4 separate regions of the Homo sapiens genome follow, and all the other regions are linked to region 2. Evidence: fine-mapped expression QTL. A gene starts in region 2. Each other region holds a variant in brackets. All regions are shown on one strand. Distances are from middle to middle. Region 1 holds the start of LOC124905085 (a long non-coding RNA gene). Region 2 holds the start of KLHL22 (kelch like family member 22). Region 3 overlaps MED15 (mediator complex subunit 15). Region 4 overlaps KLHL22 (kelch like family member 22).

Region 1 (8,135 bases), 38 kb after region 2:
CTGAGTTAAAGTGACTCTCCTAGTCAGTTTCAGCTGCTATAACAAATACTATAGATGGAGTGACTTAAACAACATACCTCTATTTCTCACTGTCTGGATACTGGGAAGTCCAAGATCATGGTATTGGCCAGTTTAGTCCCGGTAAGGTCCTTTCCGTCTGTGTTCTCACATGGTGGAGAGAAAGAGCTGTAGCCTCGGGCACTAAGCCCATCATGGGGCTCCACCCTCATGACCTGATCACCTCCCAAAGGCCATGCCTCCCACTACCATCACAATGGGGGTTAGGCCTTCAACATAGGGGTTTTGGGGGAATCCAAACATCTAGTCCATAGCAATAAGTAAAATTGTTTATATCTTTATATGCAAAAATAAAGCTTATTTTTATTAGAAAAATATTACTTGAGGACTTATTCTCATAAAGTAGAAAATTAATTCAATAAAGAAGAAGAGGGATACAGGACACAACAGGGAAATAAGAAATCAGTGTAACTTTGGCTATGTCTAAATTATTGACATATGGTATCACTGTTGGTGTCTTTTTTTTTTTTTTTTTTTTTTTTTTTTTTTTTTTTTGGGGGATGGAGTTTCACTCTGTCGCCCAGGCTGGAGTGCAATGGCATGATCTCAGCTCACTGCAACTTCTGCCTCCCGGGTTCAAGTGATTCTCCTGCCTCAGCCTCCCGAGTAGCTGGAACTACAGCCACACACCACCATGCCTGGCTAATTTTTTTATATTTTTAGTGGAGACGGGGTTTCACCATATTGGACAGTCTGGTCTTGAACTCCTGACCTCGTGATCCACCCGCCTCAGCCTCCCAAAGTTCTGGGATTACAGGCGTGAGCCACCACGCCCGGCCCTGTGTGTGTCTTTAAATTTGAAGCCACAAATCCACATGAACTCAGCTTAAAAAGCTGTGAGGACAATAGACTCGAAGGAGCAAACAGGAGCACATGGAGGGTCCTATCTCACTCTGGTTGCAGACACTTGGGGTGCAGATGGTGATTGAGCCAGACTGAACACAAGAGAGGAGAGACTTGTATATAAAGGAGGAAGGCGCACAGGAAAGGCAGTGAACAGCACCATCCCAGCCAGTTGACGGGGCCCCTGTGAGTGCTGTGCCCCAATCCTGGACTGCTGGTCCCCTGCCAGACCTTCTTCTGGCTTGTGCCCCAGGTCATGCAGGTCTCAGACCCTGCCTTCTCAGGAGGCCTTTCCTGATCACTGCAAGGGAGCTCTGCCCTCCCCAGGCCCCGCTGACCAGCAGGTCACTCATCTTCTTACCTCCCTTTCTTTCTTTCACAGTGTCTGTCATTATATTAAGCACTCATTTGCTCTGGTTAGCCTGTTTCCATTCTGCAGGGGAAGGCAGGGCCCTGACCTCTTGAGGCTCCCTCTGGATGTAGTGCTGAGCACTGTGCCCCATCCACAGTGGGAGACCTGGGAATGTTGGTAGAGTGAATGAATGATTCATTGCTGGTAATCTTACTCCTTTGTTTAATTCATTCAGCAGACAGAACATAATCTGTCCTGAGCCAGAGGCTACACTGAGGTCTAGGAATATAGAAATGAACCATGATCCATCAGAACCCCCAAGTTAACAAGGACACTTTTCATGCTCGTCTTTTATGATTCTTCTTGATAGCTTTTCTAGGCAGGTGATATCACCTCATTGGACAGGTGCAGAACTGAGCGAATCCCAAGAGATTAAAACTGATGCCCAGGCACACCCAGCTAGACAGGGAAGAGCCCAGGATTCACACCAGGTCAGGGAGACCCAGGTGTGTGTTCCCTCTCTTGTTGGCCCTGCCTTCTGAGGCTCCTGTTTGCTGCATTCCTGGTAGGCGGCGGGGAGGGGCTGGCCACACTGCAGGGGCTGCAGGAAGCAAAGGATGAAACTGATCTTTTCACTAACCAGCATAGGGCACAGGCCAAAGAAAACTTTGGTTACTCTCTTGTGAGCCAGTTGAAGTTAGACTTGTTCTCTTTGGAATAGGTCTTCCTCTGCAGAAATAAAAACACTTGTCTGAAAGAGGCTGTAACTATCTGTGGGCTGTTGGGCAAGGACACTTCAGATACTGGCTTTGAGCTCACTGGGTCCTGGCCCCTCATGGCTCTGTGATCATCTCTGCTCCACATTGCAGGCCATGCTCCCTGTTGGTGCTCAGCCCAGGAGCCCTCCTTGGGTCCTGGCCAGACTCCTCCACCCTCGTGGGCCTGCCGCAACCAGTCTAGTGCCTTTTCTCCCATGGGGGTCCCTGGAATCTCACACACCCTGCCCTTACAGAGCCTGCAGTCCAGGGTGGGAGTTAACCCTTTCCACTTTCCCAGAGAGGGAGACCTTGAGTGGAGGGGAGGTCAGGAAACGCGGGGCTGGCAGCATGGTGGGAGGAGGTGAAAGTACGATGACCAGAGCCTTGTGTGTGCGGCTGTTGACAAAGCTGAGGGTATGATGGGTGCTGTGTGCAGGGCGTGCCTGAGAAGACCACTCCTGATGGAGTGCTGGGGGAAGTTCAAGGCTTGGAGGCCAATGAGGGGGCTGATGGCACCCATCCAGTGGAGAGGCTGTATTTGGAGGCCCTCCTGAGTGGGAGCAAGGCTATGTGGATGATGAGATGAGGTAAGTGAGATGGAAGTGGCTGTACGAACAGCCATTGAGGCTGAGGCAGGAGGATTGCCTAAGTCCATATCCCAGGTGTCAAGACCTTGTCTCTATCAAAAAAAAAAAAAAAAAAAAAAATAGCGGGCGTTGTGGTGCGCACCTGTAGTCCCAGCTACTTAGGAGACTGAGGTGGTAGGATCACTTAAGCCCAGGAGGTCGAGGCTACAGTGAGCCATGATTGTGCCACTGCACTTCAGCCTAGGGGACAGAGAGACCTCTCTCCACAAAAAAAAAAAAAAAAAAAAAAAAAGAGCCATTGGACAGCCCAGGTGGACAGTTAGGTGGAAACACAGGAGGCTCCTGGCCATTCCTTCCATGCTGTGTGGTGGGGAGCACCTGTGCTCAGGTGTGTAACAGCCTGTGGGCCTGGCTGTAGATCGGTGTGCACTGGTATGTGGGGTAGTTGGGGAGGGTTCAGGCTGGGCTGAGGCAAAGCAGAAATGGGACCAGAACAAGAGGTGCAAGCCTGCGGAGCAGCCTCCCTGCCTAGTCAGTGCTGTGCTTTCCTCATGTCTCGGCACAGGTATGACCCACGGCACAACCGCTGGTTCCAGATCCAGTCCCTGCAGCAGGAGCACGCCGACCTGTCCGTGTGTGTTGTAGGCAGGTACATCTACGCTGTGGCGGGCCGTGACTACCACAATGACCTGAATGCTGTGGAGCGCTACGACCCTGCCACCAACTCCTGGGCATACGTGGCCCCACTCAAGAGGGAGGTAAGGAAGCCCTCGAAGAGGGGCCTTCTCCTGCCTAATTTCCTTCCCCAGGATGTGCAAAGAGTGAGAGGCCTAGGTGTCAAGGCCTGTCCCAGGTCAGAGAAACAGGCTCAGTGAGCAGAATCCATGCTTCTCCAGAGACCCTGCATTGAATGCATTGATGAGGCCCCATGAGGTTCAGCCAGTCCACCTGGGGAGGCTCATCAAGGATCCAGACCCCATTGCTCAGAATTGTGCCCCACTTGTGAGTCTTACATGCTGAGACCTTGTCACACCACCTTGGCCCTGGCAAGCTGCTTAAACCTTGTAGTTCAAATGTGGATAGAACATTTGCTCTTTGTGCAGCTGAGACGAGCTGGGACACTTCCAGAGATGTTAAACAGGAAGGGACCCTGAGAGCTCACTGGCCTATCCTCAGACCTCTTCCCTCTAGGTCCCCTGAAGGGTGGCGCCTTCCAGAGCCAAGAAACACTCTAAGGTTTTATTTTTTATATTAAATCCTATGTTTGAATATTGGGACAACTTGAAAAAAAAATCACGTGCATCCTATATAATACCTTGGTTTATTCCAATTTGAAGATGTTTAAAATTATGTTCATTATGGAAAAATGATGTTTTAGGGAGGTGCCTCTCTTTTATCTTACGACTTTGGGGTACTCAGGCCTGGTGTAACAACCAGACATGGGATCCCAGGGAAGGAACAGGCCTTGCTGGCCCCCTACTTCCTGGGTCTCAGCCTCCGAGAACAGGGCATACCCTAGCAGTACTAGGGGTACCCTAGCAGGGCACCCCGCTAGTACTGGCATAGCATTTGTGGAGCACCTGCTATGGGCCAGGTACACCTTTGGGGATAACCGAGCACCTGAGAGGCAGAGGATGGTATGGGGGGCAGGTTCTACCTGCACTGCCTCAGGGAGTTTAGCAAGAGCTCTGGCCTTTGTAAGCCTCTTTCCAGTATCTCTCATGACCCCCAATTCCCCCAGGGACTTAGACTTTGACTTCAGGGGTCAGGGCTAGTGTCTCCTCAATGGATCCAGCTCTTCTTTATCCAGGTCATTCACACAGCCCACACAGATTTCTGTCTCTTGGGCAGCTGTGAGCTGCAAGCTGTGGCCTGCTCCTTGCTCTCAGCTTCTTTGGGGAGAAGGAAGCCTCTTTGGAAGGACACTCCGTACCCCCATCCTGGGGAAAGGAGCAGATTTTGCATGGAGAAGATCAGGAGGTCCTTGAGACCAAGTGGACAAGGAGGGCTCTTGGGTTCTGTTCCAGGAAGGGTGTTGGGGGAAGCCTCCTAGGTGGGTGTTGTGGGAGGGGCTTAGCAGTTTCTTTGTCTGCGGCAGCT[G/A]GGGAAGCAGCAGTTCTCCAGCTTGGCCACAGAGGGGCAGCCTTGGCTTTCAACCAGCTGCATCGTGGCTGCCGGTGTTCCTTCATGCACGCATTCATTCCGCAACTACTAAGCACCATGTACCAAGTCCTGGGAATCCAGTGGTGACAAGAAATGAGAAAGACTCCCCACTCCATGGTGTTTACAGCCTTGTAGGAGAAACCACTCTTAACCAGAAAACAGATCAGTAAAGTGGTTACAATTATGGTAAGTGAAATGAAGAGGGGGCTGAACTGGAGGATTTCCAGGGAGGGGGCTCTGGTAGGATGAATCTAGAGGGACTTTTTGGGGAATGTCCATCTGAGGAGATGTCAATTAGACCTGCCATTTACAGAGGGAGGAAATGTTACTGGGAATGTGTCCTCGGTTCTTGTCTTCTTGGTTAAGACTTTAAGCAAGAGACATGCATTAACGAAGATAAGTGTAAGGCAGTTTATTGCAAAAGTGAAGGTACATTCTGAAGGCCGAGTCAGAGCAGGCTGCTCCAGAATAAGATCGCCCCAACTGGCATGGGAAACCTCCCTTACAGGAGGCTTACATGATTATTCATAAATGGGCGGGAAGAGGTGTTACTCATAAGCATGTTTTGTTTGGGTGGTCTTCTAGCAGCGCATGCACTGTGGCTCTACGTGCTAGTGTATTTATCGCATGTCTCATTAGCATCTTAAATCTTCACCCAGGAGGTGTGTTTTTTACCACTGCAGTGAACAAAAGGTTACTTTCGAAGCAAGCAAAACTGGGGCAAACTATACAACACAGGCTCCCGGGGGTGGAAAGTTCCTTGTGGGGTTAGTTCCTACTTGAGCTGGATAAGCTTAACTGAAAGAGGGGTTGGGACTTTTGAAACCCCAGGTGTGGTTAACATGTCTCAGAGGTCATAGTCCCTCTGGCCATGCTAGGGGCTGAGGCCAACCTGGAGTCCACTTCCCTGCTCATATCTAACCATCTGCCTAGTCTAGCAGAAGGACCTTCCAGGGCAGGAGAGGGGCTCACAGCTTTTCCTGAGCAGGAGAGGAAGCATGGGGCATGCTTGTAGAAGAAGGAAGCCCAAGGATCAAGAGCAGAGCAAGCGAGGCTGGCCCTGGGTCATTGCGTGGTCTGGGCTGAAGACAGCAGTAGCCTGTGCTGGCACACAGCTGTGGAGCTGGAGGGAGATGGGAGGGTTCAGAGTGTAGCGTGGAGGTAAACTGATCAGGCTTGCTGATGGATCAGATGTTGGGGAATGAAAAAGGATAGGTCATGTTGGCAGGGCGCGGTGGCTCACGTCTGTAATCCCAGCACTTTGGGAGGCCCAGGCGGGGGGGATCACCTGAGGTCAGGAGTTCAAGACCAGCCTGGCCAACATGGTAAAACCCCATCTCTACTAAAAATACAAAAATTAGCTGAGCATGGTGGCAGGCGCCTATAGTCCCAGCTACTCAGGAGGCTGAGGCAGGAGAATGGCGTGAACCCGGGAGGCAGAGGTTGTAGTGAGCTGAGATCACACCACTGCATTCCAGCCTGGGCAACAGAGCAAGACTCTGCCAAGACTCCGTCTCAAAACAAACAAACAAAAAACCTCACAGGATTGGTACACTGAATATTACAAAAAGCCGATGAAAGAAATAAAAGAAGATGTGAATAGATGGAGAGACATACCAAGTCCATGGATTGGAAGAGTAAGAATAGTAAGAATGTCAGTTCTTTCCCAACCCAATTAATAATACATATATTAATACAGAATTCCTCATATTGATATAGTATTAATACAGGAATACTAGTATTCCTATCAAAATTTCAGGAAGGTTTTTTGTACTATTAAGGGAAAATGAAAATTGAAGCTGAGGTTTGGATATACCCCTAGGCCAACTGCCTGTAGCCATGTAACTGAAACTTAAGCTTTCCTCCCTCAGTGTGATAGCTTTACAAAGAAAGCTTATGCAGCTCCACATGCACAGTAGGGAACAATATTCTTCCTCATTCATGCTTTATAAACTGTGTTGTAACTGCTGTGAATTGGGGCTTCATACCACTTCCAGTTTGGGGTTTCCTGGTTCATGAACTCTTCTTTTACATGCACAATAAGCTTTTTAAAAATTTTTTTATTTTTATTTTTTTTGAGACAGAGTCTCGCTCTGTCACCCAGGCTGGAGTGCAGTGGCATGACCCCGGCTCACTGCAACCTCTGCCTCCCTGGTTCAAGTGATCCTCCTGCCTCAGCCTCCCAAGTAGCTGGGATTACAGGTGAGCACCACCATGCCCAGCTAATATTTATATTTTTAGTATCATGAAGGTTTCACCATATTGCCCAGGCTGTTCTTGAACCCCTGGTCTCAAGGGATCTGTCTGCCTCGGCCAAAGTGCAGGGATTAGAGAAGTGAGCCATCACATCCAGCCTAAAATTTTTTTTTATTGCTGGTCGCAGTGGCTCACGTCTGTAATCCCAGCACTTTGGGAGGCCGAGGATGGTGTATCGCTTGAGGTCAGGAGTTCAAGACCAGCCTGGCCAACATGGTGAAACCCCATCTCTACTAAAAATACAAATATTAGCTGGGTGTGGTGGCACACACCTGTAATCCCAGCTACTGGGGAGGCTGAGGCACAAGAATGGATTGAACCCAGGAGGCAGAGGTTGCAATGAGCCGAGATTGCGCCACTGCACTCCAGCCTGGGCGACAGAGTGAGACTGTCTCAAAAAATAATAATAAAATAAATTTCAAAATAAATAAAATAAATTTTTTAATTTTGATTTGATTTTACTTGTGACATTAGATGTAAATGAGATTATTCTGAAATGTATATATAAAGGCAAAGGAACTAGAATAGCTCAAATAATTTTGAAAAAGAACGATAAGATGGGAGGAGTCTGCCCAATTTCAAGATTACTACATAGCTACAGTAATCAAGGCTGTGGTATGGATACAGTGATAGACACATAGATCAGTGAAACAGAATGGAAAACCCACAGACCTGAGTAAATATGCCCAGTCATGTTACACATGATTTTGGACAAAGGTGCAGAAACAATTGAGTGGAGGAAAGATATCTTTCAGCAAATAGTACTGGAGCAATTAGACATGCGTCGGCAAAAAAATGGATATCAACCCAAGTCTCATACCATATACCAAAATGAATTCAAAATGGTTTATGGAGTTAAATGTAAAACCATAAAACTTCTAGAAAAAAAGAAGAAGAAAATCTTTTTTTTTTGAGACCATTGATTTTTAATATTTTCTTAAAAAAATACAAAAGAAATTAACTCTGTAGTACAGGTCAGTACACTTCAGGGAAAGAGGGAAAAATGGAATTTCAGAGCAAAGGTTGTTTAGGTTATCACATTCCCACACTCCCAATACCCATAAAACAAGAATTTCACTCCATGACACAGAGGAACATTGA
Region 2 (8,135 bases):
AAGCTGTTACTTGCAACCCTAACGCAAGCTGTCCTAAAGCAAGCTGTCACTTGCACCCACTGGCTATTCAGAGATCAGGGAGAATATTCTCACTGGTCATAAAGCCAAGCTCTCAGGACACAAATAAAACAAACAGGAAAGAGGTAGCTGTGCCTGGGAGGAAAGGATCAATAACAAACAGTTACCCCTCAACCAAATTTAAGCAAGAGTCACAATCCAGACACAATGTTTTCTTCTGCTAATTTGAATTTGGAAAGGAAGGGACAAGAAGTTTTTACCTTCCACTCTCAGCTGAGTACTACAGGCAGTGATATGGGACAGTTAACCTTGGTAAGAATGCTTACCTTTTGCCAGTTGTCCCAAGTGGGGTGTCTTTGCCACCCCACTTGTTTGTTGGGTGCCAGAAAGAGTAGGGGGAAAAGGTAATATTTTTTCCTCACGCATCACAAGGTTCCTGGTTGACACCCCTCTAACAAAGGACAGATTAACAAGAGAAAAGCATATCAATTTATTTAATATAAATTTTATATGACACAGTAGCCTTCAGAAAAAAGCCCCAGTGTCTAGTGAGGGGTCCGTTCTCTGCTTTTTTTTTTTGAGACGGAGTCTTGCTCTGTCACCCAGGCTGGAGTGCAGTGGCGCGATCTCAGCTCACTGCAAGCTCTGCCTCCCGGGTTCACGCCATTCTCCTGCCTCAGCCTCCCAAGTAGCTGGGACTACAGGCGCCCACCACCATGCCTGGCTAATTTTTTGTATTTTTAGTAGAGATGGGGTTTCACCATGTTAGCCAGGATGGTCTTGATCTCCTGACCTCATGATCCTCCCACCTCGGCTTCCCAAAGTGCTGGGATTACAGGCGTGAGCCACTGCGCCCAGCCGATTCTCTGCCTTGAAGATGGTGCTTATTACAGTGTCCTCACCTGGCAAAAGTGGGGGATGAGCTCCTTCGAACCTCTTTTATACACTGATCCCATGGTGAGGACTTCACCCTCATGACCTAAACCCCTCCCAAAGGCCCTACTTTATAATAGTATCGCACTGAGGATTCAGTTCCAACATATGAATTTTGGGGGTACCGACATTCAGACCACAGTGGCCTTCTTGTTGCTGCCCCAGGATTCCTTTTCCTCTCCTCTCTGGGTCCACCCGTACACCTGGTCCCATTGGGCCTTGGAGGTCAGTCTTCCCCTACCTGGAGCCAAGGGGGGCCTCATCTTCCCCCAGACCTGCTCTTGCTCTGGCTCCCCTGTAGGCAGGGTGGGCCTACTTCCCCACCCATCTCCTGGGCTCATTCTTCACACATCACTGGGCTTATACTGGGGAACCTGCTTCCTTCCCAGGTTTCTAGCCTGCTCCACTCTGGTCTTCACTCCCTGCCTGAGACCACAGCACTGTGGCTGGCTCCCTACTCAGTCTTCGTCTCTACCATATTGGCATCTGCCCACCCTGGCTACAGGGTGCCCTCAGGGCTAAGTCAAGCCTCCAAAGGGCAGGGTCTGCTCTCCAACCTTCCCTTCAGGCTCAGAAAATTCTGGAAACCTCCACACCACTCACTTTGAAGGATCTCACCTCCACGTTTGCTGACACTGTCGGCTTCCTGGAATGCTTTTCTTAATCCCAAAGTCCTCCTCTGTTACACAGTAGGGGGGTCTCCTCCAGAAAGTCTTTCTAGGAGGAAGCCCACTCCCATTTGGAACCTCTGCCTCTGGAGGCCAATCCCGTTCTCTTGATCCTTGTCTGGGACCCTCAGTTATCTCTCTGGACTCAGCCAGGACAGCAATTCTCTTCCGTGTATTTTCCTCCTTTTACATTCCCCTTCCACCAATTTTTTTTTTTTTTTTTTTTTTTTTTTTTGAGACGGAGTCTCGCTCTGTCACCAGGCTGGAGTGCAGTGGCGCGTGATCTCGGCTCACTGCAACCTCTGCCTCCCGGGTTCAAGCGATTCTCCTGCCTCAGGCTCCCGAGTAGCTGGGACTACAGGTGCGCGCCACCACGACCGGCTAGTTTTTTTGTGTGTGTTTTGGTAGAGATGGGGTTTCACCATGTTGGCCAGGATGGTTTCCATCTCCTGACCTCGTGATCCGCCCGTCTCGGCCTCCCAAAGTGTTGGGATTACAGGCGCCAGCCACCAAGCCCGGCCCCACCTTTCTTTTTAACCATGAGCCATCTCCAGCCACATCCTCCCCCTACCACTCTCTCCACCCTTCACAGTCCCTCTCAAAACCACAGTGTGGGACACTCCAACCTTATCCCATCAGGAGGCTCTGTGGCTCCAAGCTCTGGGCGCAGCCATTACGGATACGCCTCGGAGGATGGGACCTGCTCGAAGGTGAGGTGGAGAACAATGAATGCCAAGACCCGCGCACGGACCTCTGGGACCAGGCTTTAAGACTGGGAATTAGATTTACTGCAAAATCTCAGTAAAGGAACGGGCACACAAACTAGCACCTGTTCACTCTGGCGGTGTTAAGCGATTCTCCCCGATATCCCGCAGGGGGCGCGCTACGGTCAGCGGCACCGACCGCGGAGGGAGCGGGGAAGGAGCAGGCCGCGGGAGGGAGGGAATGAGCGCGTGACGAAGGGAACAAGTGGAGGAGAGGAGGAAAGAAGGGAATCAAAGAGGGAGGGAGGCAATGGGAGAAGAGGAGAGGGAGGGAGGGAAAGAAGGGGGGAAATGAGACAGGGAGGGAAGGAATGAGAGAGGGAGGAGAGAACGAGAGTTAAGGAGGGAGGGAAAGGGAATGAGAGAGGGAGGGGATGAGAGGGGGAGACAGGGAGGGAGTGAATGAGTGAGGGAGGAAGGGAATGGTGGGTAAGATAGGAAGGGAAGGAATGAGAGAGTGAAGGAGGGAGGGAATGAGAGGGGGGGAGTAAGAGAGGAGAGAAGAGAGTGAAGAAGGGAATGAGGAAAGGAGAGGGAGGATATGAGCGGGGAGGGAGATAGTGAGGAAGGGCAGGAGGAAGTGAGTCGAGGAATGAGGGTAGGACCGAGGCAAGGAAAGAGTCAATGGATTCAGACGGGGCGACTCTCGGCAAATTCGCTCATTCGTTGGTTCGGCCCCGCCAAGTGCCAGGTGCCGCGCTAGTGCGGGGACTCACTGAGCCTTGGCGATCGCTGCTGTCCTCCGCAGAGCGCCGGAGTGGAGCCGCCCCCTGTCTCCCCGCCCCAGGGCCGCCCCCGCGCTGCTACCCGGCCAGGCCGGGAACCCCCGGGCCTACGTCTGGCCCGCCCGGCGCCTGCGCGGCGCACCCACGTGACGGCCCAGGCCCCCGCCCCGCCGGCTCCTCTCGCCCAGCCTCCCGCCTCGCGCCTCCCGCCTCCCGCCTCCCGCCTCCCTCCAGCTGCGAGTGCGGCCTCGGCTGGCGGCGGCACCAGGTCAGCTGCGAGGCGTGAGCCGAACGGGCCGGGCGGCAGCGAACGCGGGGGTCGGGCGGCAAGCAGGCATCGCTGGGCCGGGGACAAGCTAGCGGCGCGGAGTCCGAGGGGCGCGGGGGCGGGCGCGGGCCGGAGGCTCGGGGGCGGCGACCTGAGGAGAGCCCGCGGCCTGACGTGGCGGGGACGCGGCCGGCGGGATCCCCGGGCGCGGGCGCGTAGGGGCCGGGATCTGGCGCTCGGCCAGGGGCCAGGGTGCGAGGCCTCCTCAGCGCGGCTGCTGGCGCGCCGGCCTCCTGGCACCCGGGCGGGCCCTGTTGCCTGCGGCAGGTCCGAATGCGGCCTTCCTGGCCGCGACCCTCCGCGCTGGAGCGGGCGGCCTTGCAACAGGCGGGCGATTTGGGGCCGGCCTGACGAGCCTCAGTTCCCTCGATCGGGCCCGGGGACTGCAGCCGTAGGAGCCCAGCCTTGCCAGCTCTCCCGGTTTCCTGAGAGGAGCCGGAGATCGCGCTGTCAGTGCAAAATCACCAGAGCGCGAAGCGTCGGCTGCCAGTTCTGACCATTTTAGATCCGGTGCGGGCCGAGCCGAGTGGATCTGGGGCGGGCAGCGGGGCACCGCCACCTTCCGCCTGGGCTCCTCACTGGGCGCCCTCGCTCCGGCCCTCCGCGGGGCCGAGTGCCTCCAAGACGGCTCCCTGGGAGATTCTTCCAGAGCGCACCCTTTGGAAGGCTGCCCCGCTGGGAATCAGCACCCACTCCCTCTCCTCTACCGCAGCCGCCCCCTTTGCCTTTGTGGCCGACCTTGCTTCATGCTGCCAAGGATTGAGTTTCTTTGAGGGGATACTGCTCGTTCGGGGGCCCTACAGAAGGCTGAGGGTATCTACTCAGTAAAATCGTACCGAACTGAAAGTTCCTCTGAAATGATTTTGACTCTGCCATCCATCACTTCATAAAAATTCATCTTGTATCCTTCAGTTTGTAGCTATGTGGCACATTAAGCTTCCTTTCTTCTCCCCACTGAAACTTCGAACAGTACAAAACGGGGAACTTGGCTTGTGATGACTAAAATTGGGGATATGAGACTGGGGGCGGGCGCGGTGGCTCATGCCTGTAATCCCAGCACTTTGGGAGGCCAAGGCTGGCAGATCACCTGAGGTCAGGAGAGACTAGCCTGGCCAACATGGTGAAACCCCGTCTCTACTAAAAATACAAAAATTAGCTGGGTGTGGTGACACGTGCTTGTAATCCCAGCTACTCGGGAGGCTGAGGTAGGAGAATCGCTTGAACCCAGGAGATGAAGGCTGCAGTGAGCCAAGACCCTACCACTGCACTCTAGCCTACACCATATAGTGAAACCTCTTCTCTACAAAGAAAATTTGAAAAATTAGCCGGGCGCAGTGGTGAGCTCCTGTTGTTCCAGCTTCTGAGGAAGCTGAGGTGGGAGGATCACTTGAACCTGGGAGCTTGAGACTGCAGTGAACCCCAAGCTGTCTCACCCCAGATAGCCAGGACTACAGGTGTACACCACCATGCCTAGTTAATTTTTAAATTTTTTGTAGAGAAAGGGTCGCGCTATATTGCCCAAGGTGGTCTTGAACTCCACCTACCTGGACCTCCCAAGGCACTGGGATTACAGGCATGAGCCACCATGCCCAGCCTACTTTGCACTTTTTTTTTTGGGGGGGGGGCAAAGTCTGGCTCTGTCGCCCAGGCTGGAGTGCAATGGCACAATCTTGGCTCACTGCAACCTCCACCTCCTGGGTTCAATCGATTCTCCTGCCTCAGCTTCCCCCTTCCTCAGCCTTCCCAGTAGCTGGGATAACAGGCATGCGCCACCACGCCCCACTAATTTTTGTATTTTTAGTAGAGATGGGGCTTCCTCATGTTGGCCAGGCTGGTCTTGAACTCCTGACCTCAGGTGATCCTCCCACGTTGGCCTCCCAAAGTGCTGGGATTACAGGCATGAGCCACTGTGCCCAGCCTACTTTGCACATTGTTTTTTTGTTTGTTTTTTTGTTTTTGAGACGGAGTCTCGCACTGTCATGCAGGCTGGAATGCAGTGGCGTGATTCTCCTGCCTCAGCCTCCCAAGTAGCTGGGATTATAGGCACCTACCACCATGCCCGGCTAATTTTTTTGTATTTTTAGTAGAGATGGGGTTTCACTATGTTGGCCAGGCTGGTCTTGAACTCCTGACCTCGTGATTCATCCGCCTCAGCCTCCCGAAGTGTTGGGATTACAGGCGTGAGCCACTGCGCCCGGCCACTTTGCGCATTTTGACTGTTGCCTAATGTTCTGTCAGATCACTGTGCCATGACATCTGTTCTCCTGAGGGTGGACGTTTTGGTGATTTAAAACCGTATAGATGTGGTTTTAAATGTTTTAAATGTTGCACCCTGTGCTGTGCTCCTTCCCAGCAGAGAATTGATTCATTTTTCAGCATATCCCCCTTAGCCCCTAGCTAAGTTTCTTAAATTGGACTTGGTAAATGTGCTTTGCCTGCCCATGGAAGATGTCTTTCTGTTTTACCGTACTTGTTTTTGCAGTATGGGTTTAGGGAGTAGCTGCCATTTATCCCTTCCCAAGAGAGCAGAGGCACTACTATGCTCACGGAAGGTGAGGATCCACCTGGGGGCTTGATGTCTATTGGGGTAGTTGTGGAGGTCACCCTCAGAGAAGGAGGCCCTCTTGACTCTGCGGTGGTCATGGTGGTGATGAGAAAGCTGAGGCGTGGGTATATGAGACAAGTGCCCAGAGTCTGTCATTAGCAAGTGGTACAGCCAGCCATGGGGGCTTTTGAGATGTTTGTGAGATAAAACCTCACCCCTCAAGAAGCCGGAATCTCCTTGTCGTGGGTAAATAGGCAGGTTTGGGCCGGGCGCGGTGGCTCATGCCTGTAATCCCAGCACTTTGGGAGGTCAAGGCAGATGGATCACCTGAGGTCAGGAATGCGAGACCAGCCTGACCAACATGGTGAAACCCCATTTCTGCTAAAAATGCAAGAAAATTAGCTGGGTGTGGTGGTGCACGCCTGTAATCCCAGCTACTGGGGAGGCTGAGGCAGGAGAATCACTTGAACCTGAGAGGCAGAGGTTGCAGTGAGCCAAGATCACACCACTGCACTCTAGCCTGGGTGACAGAGCGAGACTCCGTCTAAAAAAAAAAAAAAGGGCAGGTTTGAATGGTGGGGCATATTTGTCATGTTCTCTGTACAATGATAGAGGGAGAAGTAATCGAGCTAGACCTTGACCAATATGGGACTATGAGAGACAGAATGGCCTAGATGGGTGACTAAAGGTGTTCAGGGGATGACAGGTATCCCTTTTGGACTAAGGACTGCTGATGGGGCTGAGTAGGTAAGGCTTGAAGGAGAGCAGCCTGGGGAGGATGAGACAAGAGGTAGGGAAACTGGTAGGGGCATCACTGCTGTGGTCTGACCCAGAGTGGTGGCCCTGGAGGAGTGGAGGGTGGCTGTCTGAGATGGAGGAGAGGTGAAGGAATCAGAACTAGTAGGTTCATAGGGCACATGGGTTAGAAAGGAAAAATATTAAAACAGTGAGGTTTCCAAGATGGAAATGGTAGCTTTGATAGTAAAATTAGACAAGTTGGAGGGCTACTAGCTAGATTAGGCACTGAGCTGTAGGTGAAACTGGGAATGTGAACCACTGGGAAAGAAGGATGGGCTCGAGCAGGGTGTGTGGGATGAAAGAGAGAGGTCAGAAAAGGGAGAATTATCATAGAGCAGAGTTTCCAGGCAAGAGAATCCTAAGTGAGAGGTGGTCATGGGGTATACACCTTGGCTGTGGCCATCTCTGGGGCCTTGGTGAGAAAGATGAGCCAGCCCAGGAGGGGGAAAGGAATGGGTGGGTGGCTGGATAGAGGTCCCAGGTCCTGGAGGCAGACTCAGGGGCAGGCACAGATAACTGAGTGTGTTTGATGGGAAGCAGTAGAGCATCCAGGGGATGGGGTTGGGGGTGGCCCTGAGCCTCAGTAGTGAAGAGAGAGACCTCTTCTTTTTGGCAAGTTTTATATCAGCATATATTTTTCATTTTTTCTTTTAAAGATATATAATCATGTGCCACACAGTGATGTTTCCGTCAATGACAGACCAGACCACATGAAGGATGGTGGTCCCATATTTTTACTGTACCTTGTCTGTGTTTAGATACACAAATTCCATTGTGTTACAGTTGCCTATAGTATTCAGTACTGTGATATTGTGAAATATATATTTGGTCTTGTCTCATTTCTTGGCATACAACTTCTAAAATCTTTGGACTTTCCAGAGTGATGCCTTTTTGTATGCTGGCCAGCAGCCCCTAGGTAGCTTCAGGATGGGGGCTGGTGACAGGAAAGGCCAAGGCAGGCATAAGAGGGTTGGGACTTTCAGCCTCACCTCTCAACCTCCGGAGAGGGGAGACAGGCTGAAGATTAAGTTCATCACCAATGGCCAGTGATTTAATCAGTCATGCCTACATAATGAAGCTTCCATAAAAATTCTGAATGACTGGGTTTGGAAAACTTCTGGATAGTTGAACACATGGAGGCTCCTAAAGAGTGATGTTCCTGGAGAGGGCCTGGAAGCTCTGCACCACTTCCCACATGTCTGGCCCCATGCATCTCTTCATCTGTATCCTTTGCAATACCCTTTATAACAAACCAGTAGACATGAGTATTTTCCTGAGTTCTGTGAGTCGCTCTAACAAATTAGTTGAACCCAAGAAGGGGATCTTGGGAACCCAATTTATAGCCTATTGGTCAGA
Region 3 (8,000 bases), 39 kb before region 2:
GTCCCAGGGAGCACACACAGATTAAAGGAGGTGGTCACATAAAGCCCTCAGTGTGGTGCCCCACCCAGGGAGAAAGCCCACATATAGTGGAAATCCTTCTTCTCCACTCCACCTGTGGCGAGTTCTAGATAAGCATCACCTTCTTCACTTAGCAAAAGGGGACAGGAATGCTTCTGGGCCCATGCCTCAGGGCCCTGTAGGGCTTAGGTAAGGACCCCTAGGAGGGGCTGAGGACAAACCAGGTTCTTGCTCACGGCATTGATCCCTTCCACAGGACCAGCTAGGGGCCTGAGCAAGCTTCCTGTAGGATTCACAGGGGCTGACCACAGATGGAAGGTGACGGCAGTGAGGTCTGGGGCCAGAGGCTGGGCCTGCAACCCAAGTGCCCTCCCTGTACCATGGACACACAGGAGGACCCAGACTGCTGCAGGCAAAACCAACTGTGCCTGTGATCAATCGATGAGCAACCACCCCACCCCTACACCCTAGGACACCCAACAGAGGGGTTCCAGAGTCTGTGATGCTCTCCTCTCCAAGTCTCTCTGCCAGAGTGGCTCCACTTACTAGGGCCTTACCCGGGTCTTGGCCTTCAGGAAAACATGGCTCTCCATATCCTTGCTGGATTTACTGTGTGCCACACCAGCTTTCCTCATGGCATCCTCGCTGAAACACAAAAGGAGAAGAGACGTTTGCACACACCAGTGACTCCACCGCTGCAGGGCCCTGGCCAACAGGCCCTGCATAGCAGCTGCCCCTGGTGACAAGGTGCTATCGCCAGCACACCAGCCTGGCTGAGGTCCAGGAGAGGCATATGGGAAGGGGCACTCAACAGAGAGCAATGACAGGCCACTGAGCAGGGTGATCAGAAAAAAGGGACAGGAAAGGTGGTCGCCATGAAGCAAAGAGAGAGCCCTGGCATGAAGGGACGGGGCGGGGGAGGGGTTGCCCCTAGGGATGGCTCACAACCAGTTCAGGATCAAGGAAGTACGCATTAGACTACTGGGTGGCCAGCTGGCCTCTATTTCCTGCTCTCTGAGTGGCCTGCGTTCCCCATGAACTCTGCCAGATGGTAGCACCCTGGTTCTAGACTCGATTACTCCTATAAAATGAAGGGGCCACATGAAGTCATCTCTCAGTCCCTCCCAAGGCAAGGGTCTGTCCCTATGTGGGACAATGCAGGTCCTATATGTGGGATCAAAGAGACAAGCTCCAACTTCACTTCTAGCTAGAGACAAGAAGAGAAAGACCACATAAATGTGAAAAATATCTTTAAAAACCCATTTACCAACAATTTTGTACTAAGAGATAGAATCCTATGAAGAGTTTTTCATCACACTGCTGCTCCACGGGGATAAAGAGCCATGTACATCAGTTAAGGTGGAGACCCCTCGAATGCAGCACATGCTGCCCCACCCACCCCCACCCCCACCTCCCACACTCACACACAGAAAGACAAAAACAAGTGTGAATCTGTTAGAAAGGCCTGGCCTGTGGCTCCCAGGGGTGGACTGCTCTGGTGTGCTCACTGCCTGCCTTCTTGCCAGTGGGATGGGTCTCTTCCTTGCCTGGCCTCCCACCCTGGGCTTGCTGATAAAGAAACAAGTGGCCAGGTGCAGTGCCACACGCCTGTAATCCCAACACTTTGGGAGGCCGAGGCGGGTGGATCATCTGAGGTCAGGAGTTCAAGACCAACCTGACCAACATGGTGAAACCCTGTCTCTACTAAAAATACAAAATTAGCAGGGTGTGGTTGCGCATGCCTGTAATCTCAGCTACAAAGGAGGCTGAGGCAGGAGAATCGCTTGAACCGGGAGGTGGAGGTTGCAGTGAGCCGAGATTGCGCCACTGCACTCCAGCCTGGGTGACAGAGCGAAACTCCATCTCAAAAAAAAAAAAAAAAAAAAAAAGAAAGAAAGAAGCAGGCTGAGCACGGTGGCTCACGCCTGTAGTCCCAGCACTTTGGGAGGCCAAGGCGGGCAGATCACGAGGTCAGGCGAGCACGACCATCCTGGCTAACACAGTGAAACCCTGTCTCTACTAAAAATACAAAAAATTAGCTGGGCATGGTGGCAGGCGCCTGTAGTCCCAGCTACTCGGGAGGCTGAGGCAGGAGAATGGCATGAACCCGGGAGGCGGAGCTGGCAGTGAGCGGAGATTGCGCCACTGCACTTCAGCCTGGGCAACAGTGCGAGACTCCGTCTCAAAAAAAAAAAAAAGAAAGAAAGCAAAAGAAAAAAGAAACAAGCAAACATGTCAGGGCTCTGGGGCCTTGCCTCTGAGTGAATTGAATAGGCCCAGTCCAGCTCGTGCTAGAAAGCATTCTGACCACTCCAAACAGCAACCAGCCAACCTCAGGAAACTGAAGGAATGTACAGACGGGGCTACAGCAATATGACTGTGATTCTTAAAGACATCACAGAAAGGAGGTTTAATGCTGAGAGGTGCATACATCTGTCTTAATGTAAAAAGAAAAACAAAATGACATTGACCTACCACCCTGCTAGATTCAAAAAGCACTCTTGGGCTGGGCACGATGGCTCAGGTCTGTAATCCCAGCACTTTGGGAGGCCGAGGCAGGTGGATCACCTGAGGTCAGGAGTTTGAGACCAGCCTGGCTAACGTGGTGAAACCCTGTCTCCACTAAAAATACAAAAATTAGTCGGGTGTGGTGGCAGGCACCTGTGGTCCCAGCTACTCGGGAGGCTGAGGCAGGAGAATCGCTTGAACCCTGGAGGCAGAGGTTGCAGTGAGCCAAGATGGCACTACTGCACTCCAGCCTGGGCGACAGAATGAGACTCCTGCACTCTTGGAGTTCCTACCTCCCTGTCTGCTTCCTGAAGCCTGAAGGGAGGCGAGGAGGCAGCAAGGGGTTTCTGCTCACAAGGCATCCAGGTGTGGAACAGACAAGTAAGAAAGGTCACCAGGGCCACAAAAGATGAGAGAGTTAACAATCCAGGAGGATAATGACAACCAACTCACGCGCGGCACTGGGTCAGAGTCCTGGGGAAGCGAGGCATGGGTGGGCTGGGAGGACCCTGTACTCATGCTCTCAGGTTAGCATGGGGCAGGGTCTCCACACCCAGAGGCTGAGACGATAGCTGCTAGGCCCCAAGAAGTCAGTGAGCATTTCTGATAGAAGTGGCTGCACAGGCCTGTTTTCTGAAGGTTGCCTCATCTGTGCCCCTCAAGGCAGGTATGCCCTTCAAAGGCATACTTGTTCTTCCCACCTTCCTTTTTTCTTTTTCTTCTTTTGTTTTTTGAGACAATGTCTCACTCTCTCACAGGTGCAGCGCAGTGGGGCAAACACAGCTCACTGCAGCTTCAAACTCCTGGGCTCAAGTATCCTCTCACCTCAGCCTCCCAAATAGCTGGGACTACAGGCATGCGCCACCACGCCTGGCTAATTTTTTTATTTTTTACTTTTTTTGTAGAGACAGGGTCTTGCTTTGTTGCCCAGGCTGGTCTCAAACTCCTGGCCTTAAGTGATCCTCCACCTTGGCCTCCCAAAGCACTGGGACCAATAGGGAGACTCAGGGAAGAGCAGTAGAAACAGCAGGGGAGCATTTGCAGGCCAAGCAGGACGGCCTGGAGGCTGGCTGTGTAAGGAGTGGGGAGGCTGTGGGTGGCAGATGTGGCCAGGAGTCAGAGAGGAAGAAGGGTGCAGAAGAGTCTGGGGAGTGACAACCAGTTACACAGATGGGCTCTGTGCCCACCAGCAGCGATCAGAGAGCAAAGCCAGGCTTTGATACAAAAGCAGTCCTTTTGAGCTGCTACTGGCCGTTTTTGAGAGTGTCAGCAGACTGGCAGGCCCCAGACAGACACTGTCTTGGTGCAGCAGAGACACCTGGCACAGTCAGAGAGACAAGATCTAGAAACACAGCTTAGTGCAATAGCTCTGAGGTGGTGGGATGACCAGGTTGAAGAAATATGCTTGGTGAGCTGAAGGCAAGGTGGCACCATACACCAGGGGATGTACTGGCAGACGGGCCCTGTCCTGTCCTGGGTAATGTCACAGATGACATGGACACTGTGGGCACCGTCAGCTACTCAGAGCCTGAGGAGCATGGACCAAGCTGGAGGCCAGAAACAGGCAAGTCTTGACAGGCCAACACCAGGAAACCGAGTTGGGGTAAATGTCCAGTTCCACATGAGCTTCGGAGGGTCAGAGTGGGGCCAAGGAGCAAGGTGCTCCTCCGGCAAGGCGCTCCTCCAGCAAGGCTACCGCTCAGAACAGCAGCACTGTGCCATGTCACTCCCACATCTCTCCCACAGCATCCACCCAGGGAGGCCCAGCAGGTTTGGTGGCCAGTAACAGACCCTGTGTGGTTTTGCAGTTCTGACAACTGTATTTTTGAAAATGTCTTTGCTCCTGTTTCTAGTTTGAAGATCAAGTGTCACAAAATAGAGACAAAGCGAAAAAGAACCCAGGAACTCTGCAGCTAATCCCCCACACTTCCCTGCAGATGCCTGCCCTTTCCTCTCCAGCTGGCCTGGCGCTTTTCAGAGGCATCCCCTGCCTGGACATTGACTCCAGGAGGGTACCCATTTCACACTCCTGCTGAGGTCAAGTCCCCTTCCTTCCTCCCTTAGACCTAACACACCCGCTGCGGGAGGCTGCAGGCAGGACCCAGGCCCACCTTCAGAACAGCACTGGCTGCTCCCAAAGCCCCCTTCTGATCTCCCTGAGCTGGGCTCTGCTGCCATCCCCAGCATGCCTTCCTGAGCAGCCAGACCCGAATGGCTACTCCTCAGTCTCTGTCTCCTGAAAACAAAACCCTTCGAGCCACTGTCACGAAATGAAAGGAAACTATCACACAAGGAGACAGCCCCCAACATGGAGTAAGGAGCACAGCCTGAGACAAAGAACAGAGAACCCACATGTCACAGTGAGCTCTTCCCCCACACAAGCAAGCCGGGAAGACGAGGGCCTGTCCAGCCAGAGGAGGACAAAGAGCAGACTGGTGTCAGCTCACAAGGGAAGACCCT[T/C]GATGGCTGTCCTGCCACAGTCCTGTCCAACATAAGCAACAGGTTCACAAACAGTACAGGCCTATGAGGCGGCCACCAAAGAACCCAAGGCTGCCTGGGTGGTGCTCGCTCTAGCTGAGGAAGGGGGCTGGGGGCCACTCCCTGGTTGCGACCAGCCAGACCTCTGAACACAAGGACTGTTACCGGCTCAGAGCACACAGTCCCTTGCTGTGAACTGGGCTCCAATGCTCTGCCTTTGGCCATGGTCTAGCTGGTTGCCATAGCTATGTCTGTGTACTCAGTCAGGGTTCAACTGGTATCTAGCTTAGACTGAAGCCTCCCAGGGGACCGATTCATCATTACAGGCCCTTGGAGCTCCCCCACTAAGGGGTCTGAGGATGTCCTTACTGTCCAGAACTGTTCCCAGAACACAGTGTGTCTTAATGGCATTGCCCGACCCTGCCTGAGCAGCCAGCAGGGATACATCAAGAAAAGCTCTTCGTGTCTTCATCTCCCAGCACCAAGTGCCCATCCCAGAAACTTGGGAACTCCCTTCACTTTCTGACTGCCACCTTTAATTCTCCAAAGTTCAAATCTTTGCCCCAACTCCCACTGCATCTGTGGCAATTCCTCCCAAAGGGCCTCTGTCTCCCGTTCCCATTCCTACCCCCACGCCCTCGCCAGCTCCCCAGGTCACATGACTGCCAGTGAGCAACTGCCACTGAGTGTGGGAAGCAACCCAGGCCCCTGCTTGCTTTGAGCCTCGCTCCTCACCAGCAGAGCAGGCAGCCTGTCCAGGAGCCCACTGAGGAGCCTGCTCCTGCGCCTGCCCCACACACTCTCCCCAGGGCCCCAGGGATGATGACCTACTACCTGGCACATTGCCTGACTATCCCATCAGGCCTGTTAGGGCCTCCCACCCTGCTTCCACCCAGGCACCCCTGCTGTCGGCTGCACAGAAACCCTGTAGCCACCTCACCCATGTCTGTGGCACTTCCTGGAGGAATCTCTGGTTTCTGTGTGCCAGCCCCACTATACTAAGAACACCCTGAGAGCAGAGACAACGGCGTCCACTTTTGTGTGCAGTGGGCAGTCATCACTGCCAGGCACAATAACTGGCTCTTTTTAACACAAGGAGTGGTACTGTCATGCATTTTGATGGGACACGACGTGCAGAACGGAGAATCAGCGTGGCAGCCATGGGGGAATCCAGGCCTCAAACAGGCACGTCCTGGCAGTGGAGGCCAGGGTGCCTGGGAGAAGGCGTGTGCTGGGGCAGGCAGCTGGGCCTGGCAGGAAGCAGACAGGGGAGGAGGGACCTGGGCTCAAATTCCAACCTAGCCACTCACCAGCTCTGGGTCTTGGGAGAGGCACTCCCTCCCCTAAAGCGTAACCTCTTCATAAAGGAGGGGCTCTGAGAGGCTGTGGCCAGGACGAAGGTGCACAGACAGGGCCAGGCAGTGAGGAGAGGCCCACTGTTGGCCTGGTCTGCAGGGCTTCTGCCCAGCATGGGCCTGTTGTTCCTCACCTCCTTCCTATTCCAAATTGAGAAACTGGCAACAGGAGTCCAGTCCCAGTCCTTGTAATCTGAATGAGACTAAGATAAAGCAAAAAACTGGCAAACTGAGCTTCCTAGGGAAGGAGCACAGGGCATCAAACTTAAAGCCTGCTAAGGCCAGGGAGGCCTGAGGCAAGCTGCCCCGGTCTGCCCTCAACCCATCTGGCAGCGCCTCCCTATCCTTCCTTTGCACAAAGGGTGGGGACAGTGCCGACCTCACGGGTAGCCCTGAGGATGATAGTAGTTAATATTATAAGGCACTGGACATACAGGAAGTGCTAGGTATGCGTTAAAGAAATAAGTCAGGCAACAACCTGCCCAAATGTGCAATAGGATGCATCCCAAAACACCTCCGCCATGTGTTGAGGTTATTGTTGCCCCCTCCTCAGCAGACGATGGCCCAATGAGCATGTGCAGCTCCCTCAGGCAGAGCCACCCTCCCATTGGAGCTCTGAGTCACCTGCAGTGTACCCTGAGGCCAGCTCCACCGCCCGCAAGAAGGACACTCACACAGGCATGTTGATGAGGCATGAACTGGCCTCCCCACCCCAACTCCCGCTCTGCTCTGCTCCACGCCCTGACTCTTCCTTCCACAACCGCCCTGGTTCCCACCAAGGACCCTCTCCCCTCTCAGTGAGGCCTCTCCCCTGACCCCACCCTCTTTACCACTGCTCCCCCTGCCACACTGCCAGGCCCCCTTCCCTGGTCCAACTGCTTTCCCATTGCTGAATGAGGGCATGAATTCCCAGGACAGCCAGCTTCTCTGTCCTCTGCTGGTGTCTAAAGCAGGAAGGTGCGTTCCTCCCTGGGGCACAGATTCACCCTCCTGACCTCAGGGGGGCAGGATGATTCCTCTCAGCCGATTTATGTTCTGCTCGAAGGAAACTTCTGTGAGTTTCTTCTAATTTTCTAATTTTGAGAAACACAACATCTATCAATCAAGTGAACTCTCATAGGGCAGAATAAATTTTTGGCAGCTCCACTTCACCCCACCCAAGAAGCCTCCCAGTAAATTGCTGCCTGTGTGTGCAGCCTGCTTGCCCACCTGGGACAGGAGCCCACAGCTTGTATGTGGGACCCTTTACCCTATGTGTTTAAAAACCTAAATCACAGAGGACCACAAGACAACAGAAGGAGAGTTATACAATATCAGGATGATGGTTTCCTAAGCATGTCACCAGAAGCAGACACTATAAAGGAAAAAAGATTTTCCCATATTAAAAAAAAGATTTGGACTAGGTGTGGTGGTTCACGCCTGTAATCCCAGCACTCTGGGAGGCGGAGGTAGGTGGATCACTTGAGGTCAGGAGTTCGAGACCAGCCTGGCCAACATGGTGAAACGTCTCTACTAAAAATACAAAAATTAGCTGAGCACAGTGGCTCACGCCTGTAATCCCAGCACTTTGGGAGGCCAAGGCAGGTGGATCACCTGAGGTCCGGAGTTCGAGACCAGACTGGCCAACATGGTGAAACCCCA
Region 4 (8,135 bases), 23 kb after region 2:
GGAGCCCAAGGCAGGCGGATTACAAGGTCAGGAGTTCAAGACCAGCCTGGCCAACATAGTGATAACCCCATCTCTACTGAAAATACAAAATTAGCCGGGTGTGGTGGTACATGCCTGTAATCCCAGCCACTCGGGAGGCTGGGAGGCAGGAGAATCTCCTGAACCCGGGAAGTGGAGGTTGTGGTGAGCCGAGATCGCGCTGCTGCACTCCAGCTTGGGCAACAGAGTGAGACTTCGTCTTAAAAAAAAAAAAAAATTAGAGGAAGGAGGGAAGACGACAGAGTTGCCATCTAGAAAAACAAAGTTGGACCCTTGCTTCATACCTTATACCAAAATAAATTACAGGTGGATCAACAGTTTTAAATGTGAAAGATTCAATAATAAAAACACTAGAGGAAAATATCGGAAATGTTTTCTGAATAATCTCAGAAAGAAAAAGCCTTTCTAAGTTTGACACAAAACTCAGAGGCAAGTAAATGGTAAATTTGACAACATTGAAAACGAAGATAGGTTGGTCCGAAGGTAGTGTGAGTTACCTCAGTTGATTGTTCACAGTCACAGATCCAACTCCAGGTTCTACTTTTTCACCTTCTCACTACTGCAGTTGACTAGACTTGTTTAAAAAAAAAAAAAAAAAAGACAAATTTCTGCATGGCAAAAAAGCAATACAAAATCAAAAGATCGGGGAAACTCCTCATCAAAGAAAGGGCAGATTTCTTCAAATTGATAAGACAGTCTAACAGAAAACTGACTAAGAATCTGAACTGTTCAGAAAAGAAAATGGAAATGGCTCTTTAACATATAAGGAGATTTTCTGTACCTTATGTGATAAGGTTTTTCCCTTTTGTGGTGGTGAGTTAGAGCTGGTGTCTTCCTGGGTTGGGGGTAGAGGGTGCAGGCACCAGGCCCTGCTATCAGGAATGATATAAAAACAGCAACTTGACAATACTATCAAAGTATAAATGTATGTAAACCCTTCGACCCAGCAACTGTATTTGTGGGACTTAATCCTGGCATATGCATACTCAGCATGTTGTAAGGGTGAGGATGTTCATCATGTGAAATAACTGGAAATTACAAGTAACCTAAATATACCCCTGTAGAAATGGGTTAAAGAAGTGAGACAGCTGGCTGGGCGCGGTGGCTCATGCCTGTAATCCCAGCACTGTGGGAGGCTGAGGCGGGTGGATCACCTGAGGTCAGGAGTTTGAGACCAGCCTGGCCAACGTGGTGAAACCCCATCTCTACTAAAAATACAAAAATTAGCCGGGCATGGTGGCGCAGGACTGTAATCCCAGCTACCCGGGAGGCTGAGTTTGGAGAATTGCTTGAACCCGGGAGGCGGAGGTTGCAGTGAGCCGAGATTGCACCATTGCTCTCCAGCCTGGGCGACAAGAGCGAAACTCCATCTTAAAAAAATAAAATAAAATAAAAAAAGTGAGACAGCCTTTGCAAAGAGTGAGGCAGTCTTGCGTACATGGGCATGGATCAGTCTCCAAGCTATATTGTTAAGTAAAAACCGGGCTGGGTGCAGTGGCTCACGCCTGTAATCCCAGCCCTTTGGGAGGCCGAGGCAGGCAGATCACGAGGTCAGGAGATCAAGACCATTCTGGCTAACACGGTGAAACCCGGTCTCTACTAAAAATACAAAAAATTAGCTGGGCGTGGTGGGGGGCACCTGTAGTCCCAGCTACTTGGGAGGCCAAGGCAGGAGAATCAGTTGAACTCAGGAGGCGGAGGTTGCACTGAGCCAAGATCGCACCACTGCACTCCAGCCCAGGCAACAGAGTGAGACTTCGTCTCAAAAAAAAGAAAAAAGCCAAGTGAGATGTGGAATATGACTGCCCTGAGGATAGTGTGGCCCTGGGAGGGGAACTGACTGATGGTCTGGGAGCAGAGGCAAGGGGACTTTCACCACAACCTATACTGTATTTTTTTTGTGTGTGTGACAGAGTTTCACTCTTGTTGCCCAGGCTGGAGTGCAATGGCACGATCTTGGCCCACTGCAACCTCCGCCTCTTGGGTTCAAGCAATTCTCCTGCCTCAGCCTCCTGAGTAGCTGGGATTACAGGCATGTGCCACCATGACCAGCTAATTTTGTATTTTTGGTAGAGATGGGGTTTCTCCATGTTGGTCAGGCTGGTGTCGAACTCCCAACCTCAGATGATCGGCCTGCCTCGGCCTCCCAAAGTCCTGGGATTACAGGCGTGAGCCACTGTGCCCGGCCTAACCTATACTGTATTTTAAATCTGGTAGCATGTATATGTATTACCTAGTCAAAAAAATAAATAAAATGTAAAAATAGCTTCTCTTATAATCTTCATGTTGCTGTCATATTTAAACTTCAGCCCCAGTTGCCAGCCTCTTACCTCCAAACACCTAATCAGTGTCTACACTTGGAGGTTTCACAGGTATCTCACACTGATCACACAATCACGGGACTCCCAGCTGTCCAGATTTTCTTCCATCAGTAAAGGGTCCTCTTCGGCCCAGCAGAGGGCCTTGAGTCCTCCCAGGTCCTCCTAGATTCAGTCTGTCAGTAGGTTCTCTGTGCCGTGTCCCAGGGTAGTCTCAGCTACTGCTTTCTAGCTGCAATGCCCTCCCCAGGGCCAGGGTCACCCTTGGCCTCCAGGCCCACAGGAATCTCAGGCCTAATTGGTCTTCCAGGGGCTCCTCCTCCAGCACCTGAGTCGGAAAGCCAGTCAGTTCACATCACTCTGTGGGTAAATTCCTCAAGAGCATCCCATAATGCTCAGATTTCAATCTGGACTGTACCTACCCTAGAGGTAGGGGGACCTGGCTCCAAGGCCTGCCTGCCCATCCCACTTTCTGCTCACTTCGTCATCATCTTGGCTGCCTTGCATGCCAAGCTCTGCCTTGCCCCAGAACTTGTACACCTGTCTCCTTCACCTGGAACTCCCTCCCCGGCTGCCTACACCCTCTCAGCCTTATCCTTAGGTCTCAGTTCCTCAGATGGGGCTTTCCCTGCTCCTTCTCATCATTCCACCTACCCCTCTTCTAACCAGTGACTCTCAGGTCAGATGCCCTGCTGGGTTCCTTCTTAGCATTTATTTATATATGTATATATGTTTTTTGAGACAGAGTCTTGCTGTGTCACCCAGGCTGGATCGCAGTGGTGTGATCTCGGCTCACTGCAACCTCCGCCTCCCGGGTTCAAGCGATTCTCCTGCCTCAGCCTCCTGAGTAGCTGGGATGATAGGCGCCCGCCACCACACCCAGCTAATTTTTGTATTTTTAGTAGAGACGGGGTTTCACCATGTTGGCCAGGCTGGTCTTGAACTCCTGACCTCAGGTGATCTGCCCGCCTTGCCCTCCCAAAGTGCTGAGATTATAGGCGTGAGCCACCACGCCCGGCCAATTTTTGTAATTTTTGTAGAGACAGGATTTCACCGTGTTGCCTAGGCTGGTCTTGAACTCCTAGGCTCAAGGGATCTGCCTGCCTTGGCCTCCCAGAGGGTTGGGATTAGAGGCGTGAGCCACCGCGCCCAGCTATTTTACCAGTTTACTTCACTATAACTCCTTTTGCTCTTTGTTTTTTGTTTTGTTTTGCTTTTTGAGACAGTCTTGCTTTGTTGCCCAGGCTGGAGTGCAGTGGTGCAATCTTGGCTCATGGCACCCTCCGTCTCCCAGGTTCAATCAATTCTTGTGCCGCAGCCACCAAAGTAGCTGGGACTACAGATGCACAACATCATGCCCGGCTAATATTTGTATTTTTAGTAGAGACGCGGTTTCACCATGTGGGCCAGGCTGGTCTCGAATTCCTGACCTGAAGTGATTTGCCTGCCTTGGCCTCCCAAAGTGCTGGGATTACAGGTGTGAGTCACCGTGCCTGGCCTCCTTCTGCTCTTTGAATGATACTTGGCATTTGGTAGGAACTCCATAAATATACATTGAATGAAATGACTTTTATTAGTTTCCCATTAATTAATTCATTGCTTTGAAATGTGCTCTGGAGTTGCTACTGCTCCGATCCAGGAACTGCACTGATGAACACAGCAGAAGCAAGCTGCTTGTGGCCTCACCTCCCGAAGCTCACATGGGACTCCTTGGGCCCATGAAAAGGGAAACAGGACAATTTCCAGGATGGCTGCCCAGACTTCGTCAGGATCCTTTTGTGGGATGGCTCATGCATGCACACAGTTCACTCAGAGCACAGAGTGGGTCAGCCCACTACCAGGGCCCTGCCACCAGCGCCAGGTTCTTCTCTGAATGCTGTCACTCTTGGCAACATGGGCTTAAGTCCCTGTTGGTATAACTCCATTTTCTTGTGTCTTCACTTTGCAGAGGAATGTTTGCTGGGGGATTGAAGGAGATGGAACAGGAAGAGGTCCTGATCCACGGTGTGTCCTACAATGCTATGTGCCAAATCCTACATTTCATATACACCTCCGAGCTGGAGCTCAGCCTGAGCAATGTACAAGAGACACTGGTGGCTGCCTGCCAGCTTCAGGTGAGGCATGTCTCATCTAGCAAGGCAGACCCACACCCAGGTGGGGTTCCCTGAGATGCCCATGATGCCTGCCGGGCACTAGCATTGGCTTGAAGATGGGTCAGGAATGTGAGGAGACCAAGCAGTGACGAAGGCCATGAAGTGGGGAAGACTCTGGAGTTGTTCCTGGAGCTCAAGCAGAGCCGCTCTAGACACCCCAGGCCTCTGCCTTTGCCCTCTTCTCTATTGCTGGTTGTTTCCCCACTGTCTGAGTCTCCCTGTCATTGAAAGCATCCTGCACATAAGCAGGTAGGCTGACCCGAGGCTGCATGTGGACGTCCTGTGTGCTCTGGGGTCTGGCAATGGGGAGCATCCACCAGCATTGCTGCCAGGGCCCTTCCTGCCTGTCCCCTCACTGGGCCACTTCAGTCTCTTGAAAACTTATGTGTTTTGTTACTGAACTTTATCTATCTATTTGTCTGTCCATCCATCCATCCATCCATGCATGCACGCATCCATCCATCCATCCATGCATGCATGCATCCATCCATCCATCCATCCATCCATCCATCCATCCATCCATC[T/CATCT]ATCCATCCATCCATGCATGCATCCATCCATGGTGGCAGGCATCCATCCATCCATCCATCCATCCATGCATGCATCCATCCATCCATCCATCCATCCATCCATCCACCCATCCATCCATCCACTCATTCAATTTATTGGAGACAAGCTCTCTCTCTCTTGCCCAGGCTGGAGTGCAGTGGCACGATCACAGCTCACTGCAGCCTCAACCTCCTGGGCTCCAGCAATCCTTCTGCCTCAGCCTCCCAAATAGCTAGGACCTATAGGCATGTGCCACTACACCTGGCTAATTTTTAAATTATTTTTATAGAGATAGAGGCTTGCTTTGTTGCTTAGGCTAGTCTTGAACCCCTGGCCTCAAGTGATCCACCTCAGCCTTCCAAAGTGTTGCGATTACAGGTGTGAGCCACTGCGCCTGGCCTATTTTTTTTTTTTTTTTAAAGACAGGGTCTCACTCTGTTACCCAGGCTGTAATGCAATGGCATGATCATAGTTCACTGTAGCCTCCACCTCCTAGGCTCAAGTGGTCCTCCCGCCTCAGCCTTCTGAGTAGCTGGGACTAAAGATGCGTGCCATTGTGCCTAGCTGATATTATATATATATATATTTTTTTATAGGAATGGGGCCTTGTTATGTTGCCCAGGCTGGTCTCAAGCTCCTGGCCTCAGGTGATACTCCCACCTTGGCTTCCCAAAGTTCTGGGATTACAGGTGTGAGCCTCTGTACCCAACCTGTTATTGAACTTTAAGTACTTGTTTTCCTGCAGAATTCAAAAAGTTTTCTGAGGCTTTGACAGTGTGACTTATGTTTTGGATGATTATTCTCAGTGGTGTGGGTGCAGTTACACGGGACTGGGCCTGCAGGTGCCTTTGAGCTATCAGGCAGAGGCCTGATAGGAGTTGACAGTCACCTCTTCCCACATTTCTTAAAAGTGAAACAAAATGCTATGCTAAGTTCATCATTCTGACCTTTCTTCCCATGAGAGCAGGTTTGACGCAATTAAAAAAAAACAACTCAAGTCACAGGAAAACCAACCTGTTCGGGGGCATGTGGAGGTGCCACCCCATGTGACAGGGCCCTGGCAGCCTCCCTGTGCCCTGTTCTCAGATTGGTGGATAGGACCTGGATGCTGGGTGGGTTGATCTGAGATGACTGACTTGTCTCACCATACCTGCATGGTGAGTAGATGGAGTTGGCTTTTACAACAAAAGAATTTCCCCCTGTTCTTTTATTTAGAGATCTCTTCTGTCCCCACATCCCTGTCATTGTTGCTTTGGGAACCCTCATCCAATTCTCCACCCTGGCAGCAGTTAACTCCTGATTCAGCTGCCTCTGAAACATCTCCCCCAGCATGGCTCAGGTCCAGCTGTCCTATCTCCTCCTCCACACCTGCCACTCTCCCGGAGCTCCCCTGTCAGTCCCCCTGCTCTGTGTGTCCTGTGACCATCCTGCCAGTTCCCTGGGCTCAACCTCAGTGGCTCCTTGAGCCCGTCCACCTTCTTAATTCCCTGCGTCCATGTGAGGACAGGTCATCCTTCTCGGTATTGCTTGTAGCCATCTCTGTTCTGTGTTTCCATTTCCTTCCCTTTTGCCTGGCCTCCATCTGTATGTTTCTGCCATTTCTTTCTTCTCCCTGCAGTGATCACACACACTGAAACCAGATCATCTTTCTAACATCACTTTCCCTCTCTCACCAGTCAGCTTGGAGGCCTGCAGTCTCTCTCTGTTGGTTTGGCCAGTGCTCCCGACAGCCCTGGGTCATCTCCCCCAGTGCCTCAGAGGTCATCTCAGAGGCAGCAGCCTATCTTAGTTTTTTAACATATCAGGCTTCTGGGCCAGGCTTGGAGGTTCATGCCTGTAATCCCAGCACTTTTGGAGGCCAAGGTGAGAGGATTGCTTGAGGCCAGGAGTTTGAGATCAGCCTGGGCAACAAAGCGAGACCTCTACAGAAGCACTTTAAAAATAGCCGGGCATGGTGGCATGCACCTGTAGTTCCAGCTACTCGGGAGGCTGAGGTGGGAGAATCACTTGAGCCCAGGAGGTGGAGGCTTCAGTAAGCTGTGATCACCACACCACTACATGCCAGCTTATCTCAAAACAAAAAACAAACAAACAAAAAAAAACAGGCTTCTTCACAATATTGTTTTATAGCAGGTTTTACTTGGCATAACCATGTCAAGTCCATAGGCCTGTAGAATCATGTATGTTCACATAGCTAGTGACTTTTGGAGGCTTCCCCCATGTGTTGTGCCCTGCAGTAGGCCTGGGACCAGATTCTTCACGGTGTCCCCAGAGGCCTGAGTCTGATTCCCAGTAACACTGTCCTATTGGGTTACCCCAAGCAAATGCAGTCCCTTCTGTGAGCCTCGTATGGGGCTTTTGCACATCCTGAGCCCAGGCTGGTTCCTCTGTGAGATTTCACTGAACAGAAGGCCCACTGCTCTAAAAATAGGACTGAAAGGAGAGTCAGCAGGGTCCTCTCAAGGAGCTGCTGCTGCCCAGGCTTCTTCAGGGCTGTTTGTGCTCACATTCTGCCCAAAACTTGGTCTTCAGGACCCTGGCCCATGACAAACCAGAATTTTAGGAAAACCTAGTAGTTTGGGAAGAAGTGGCAAAGCAGAAGACTGGCAAAAAGGGAAAAAAGAAGGTCAAGTGAAGCTGGTCAGGGCCTAGCAAAGCACCATGGGGATACCTCATGTAGGGCACATACCTGCCTGACATTTGGTAGGTCTCATCCAGCTCTTAGCATGTCACCTTGCAAGCAATATTAGATGTCTTTTGAATTTTAAAAAAGTTATAGTTAGTGTTTATTGATAAGCTTTAAATACCTTGGCCGGGCGCCGTGGCTCACGCCTGTAATCCCAGCACTTTGGGAGGCCTAGGCGGGCAGATCACGAGGTCAGGAGATCGAGACCATCCTGGCTAACACGATGAAACCCCGTCTCTACTAAAAATACAAAAAATTAGCCGGGCGTGGTGGCGGGCGTCTGTTGTCCCAGCTACTTGGGAGGCTGAGGTGGGAGAATGGCGTGAACCCGGGAGGCGGAGCTTGCAGTGAGCCGAGATCGTGCCACTGCACTCCAGCCTGGGCAACAGAGTGAGA

Evidence for each region. PIP is the estimated chance that this variant, and not a neighbour inherited with it, causes the effect.
Region 1: its variant is fine-mapped to the expression of KLHL22 in whole blood (TOPMed, PIP above 0.99).
Region 3: its variant is fine-mapped to the expression of KLHL22 in whole blood (TOPMed, PIP above 0.99).
Region 4: its variant is fine-mapped to the expression of KLHL22 in whole blood (INTERVAL, PIP 0.94).

What each region holds. Positions count from the first base shown.
Region 1 is chr22:20,453,049-20,461,183 of GRCh38, reverse strand. KLHL22 (kelch like family member 22) reads left to right here. Exons shown (of 7, transcript NM_032775.4): 5 at 3,184-3,376. LOC124905085 (a long non-coding RNA gene) reads right to left here and starts at 209. Exons shown (of 3, transcript XR_007068014.1): 1 at 78-209. It also overlaps the pseudogene KLHL12P1. RefSeq lists a silencer at 1,256-1,454 and enhancers at 4,419-4,920, 5,669-5,838. The variant G/A (reference allele first, on the strand shown) is at 4,719.
Region 2 is chr22:20,491,001-20,499,135 of GRCh38, reverse strand. It overlaps KLHL22 (kelch like family member 22), which reads left to right and starts at 3,341. Exons shown (of 7, transcript NM_032775.4): 1 at 3,341-3,376. LOC101928824 (a long non-coding RNA gene) reads right to left here and starts at 3,223. Exons shown (of 4, transcript XR_007068011.1): 1 at 2,449-3,223; 2 at 345-469. RefSeq lists an enhancer at 2,175-2,827 and a silencer at 3,022-3,681.
Region 3 is chr22:20,529,780-20,537,779 of GRCh38, reverse strand. It overlaps MED15 (mediator complex subunit 15), which reads right to left. Exons shown (of 18, transcript NM_001003891.3): 2 at 576-663. Among named protein-coding and RNA genes, the nearest start is that of MED15, 26 kb to the right of the region's middle. RefSeq lists enhancers at 55-224, 6,633-7,620. The variant T/C (reference allele first, on the strand shown) is at 4,987.
Region 4 is chr22:20,467,686-20,475,820 of GRCh38, reverse strand. It overlaps KLHL22 (kelch like family member 22), which reads left to right. Exons shown (of 7, transcript NM_032775.4): 3 at 4,306-4,471. LOC124905085 (a long non-coding RNA gene) reads right to left here. Exons shown (of 3, transcript XR_007068014.1): 2 at 2,370-2,685; 3 at 537-613. It also overlaps the pseudogene RNY1P9. Among named protein-coding and RNA genes, the nearest start is that of KLHL22, 24 kb to the left of the region's middle. The variant T/CATCT (reference allele first, on the strand shown) is at 5,035.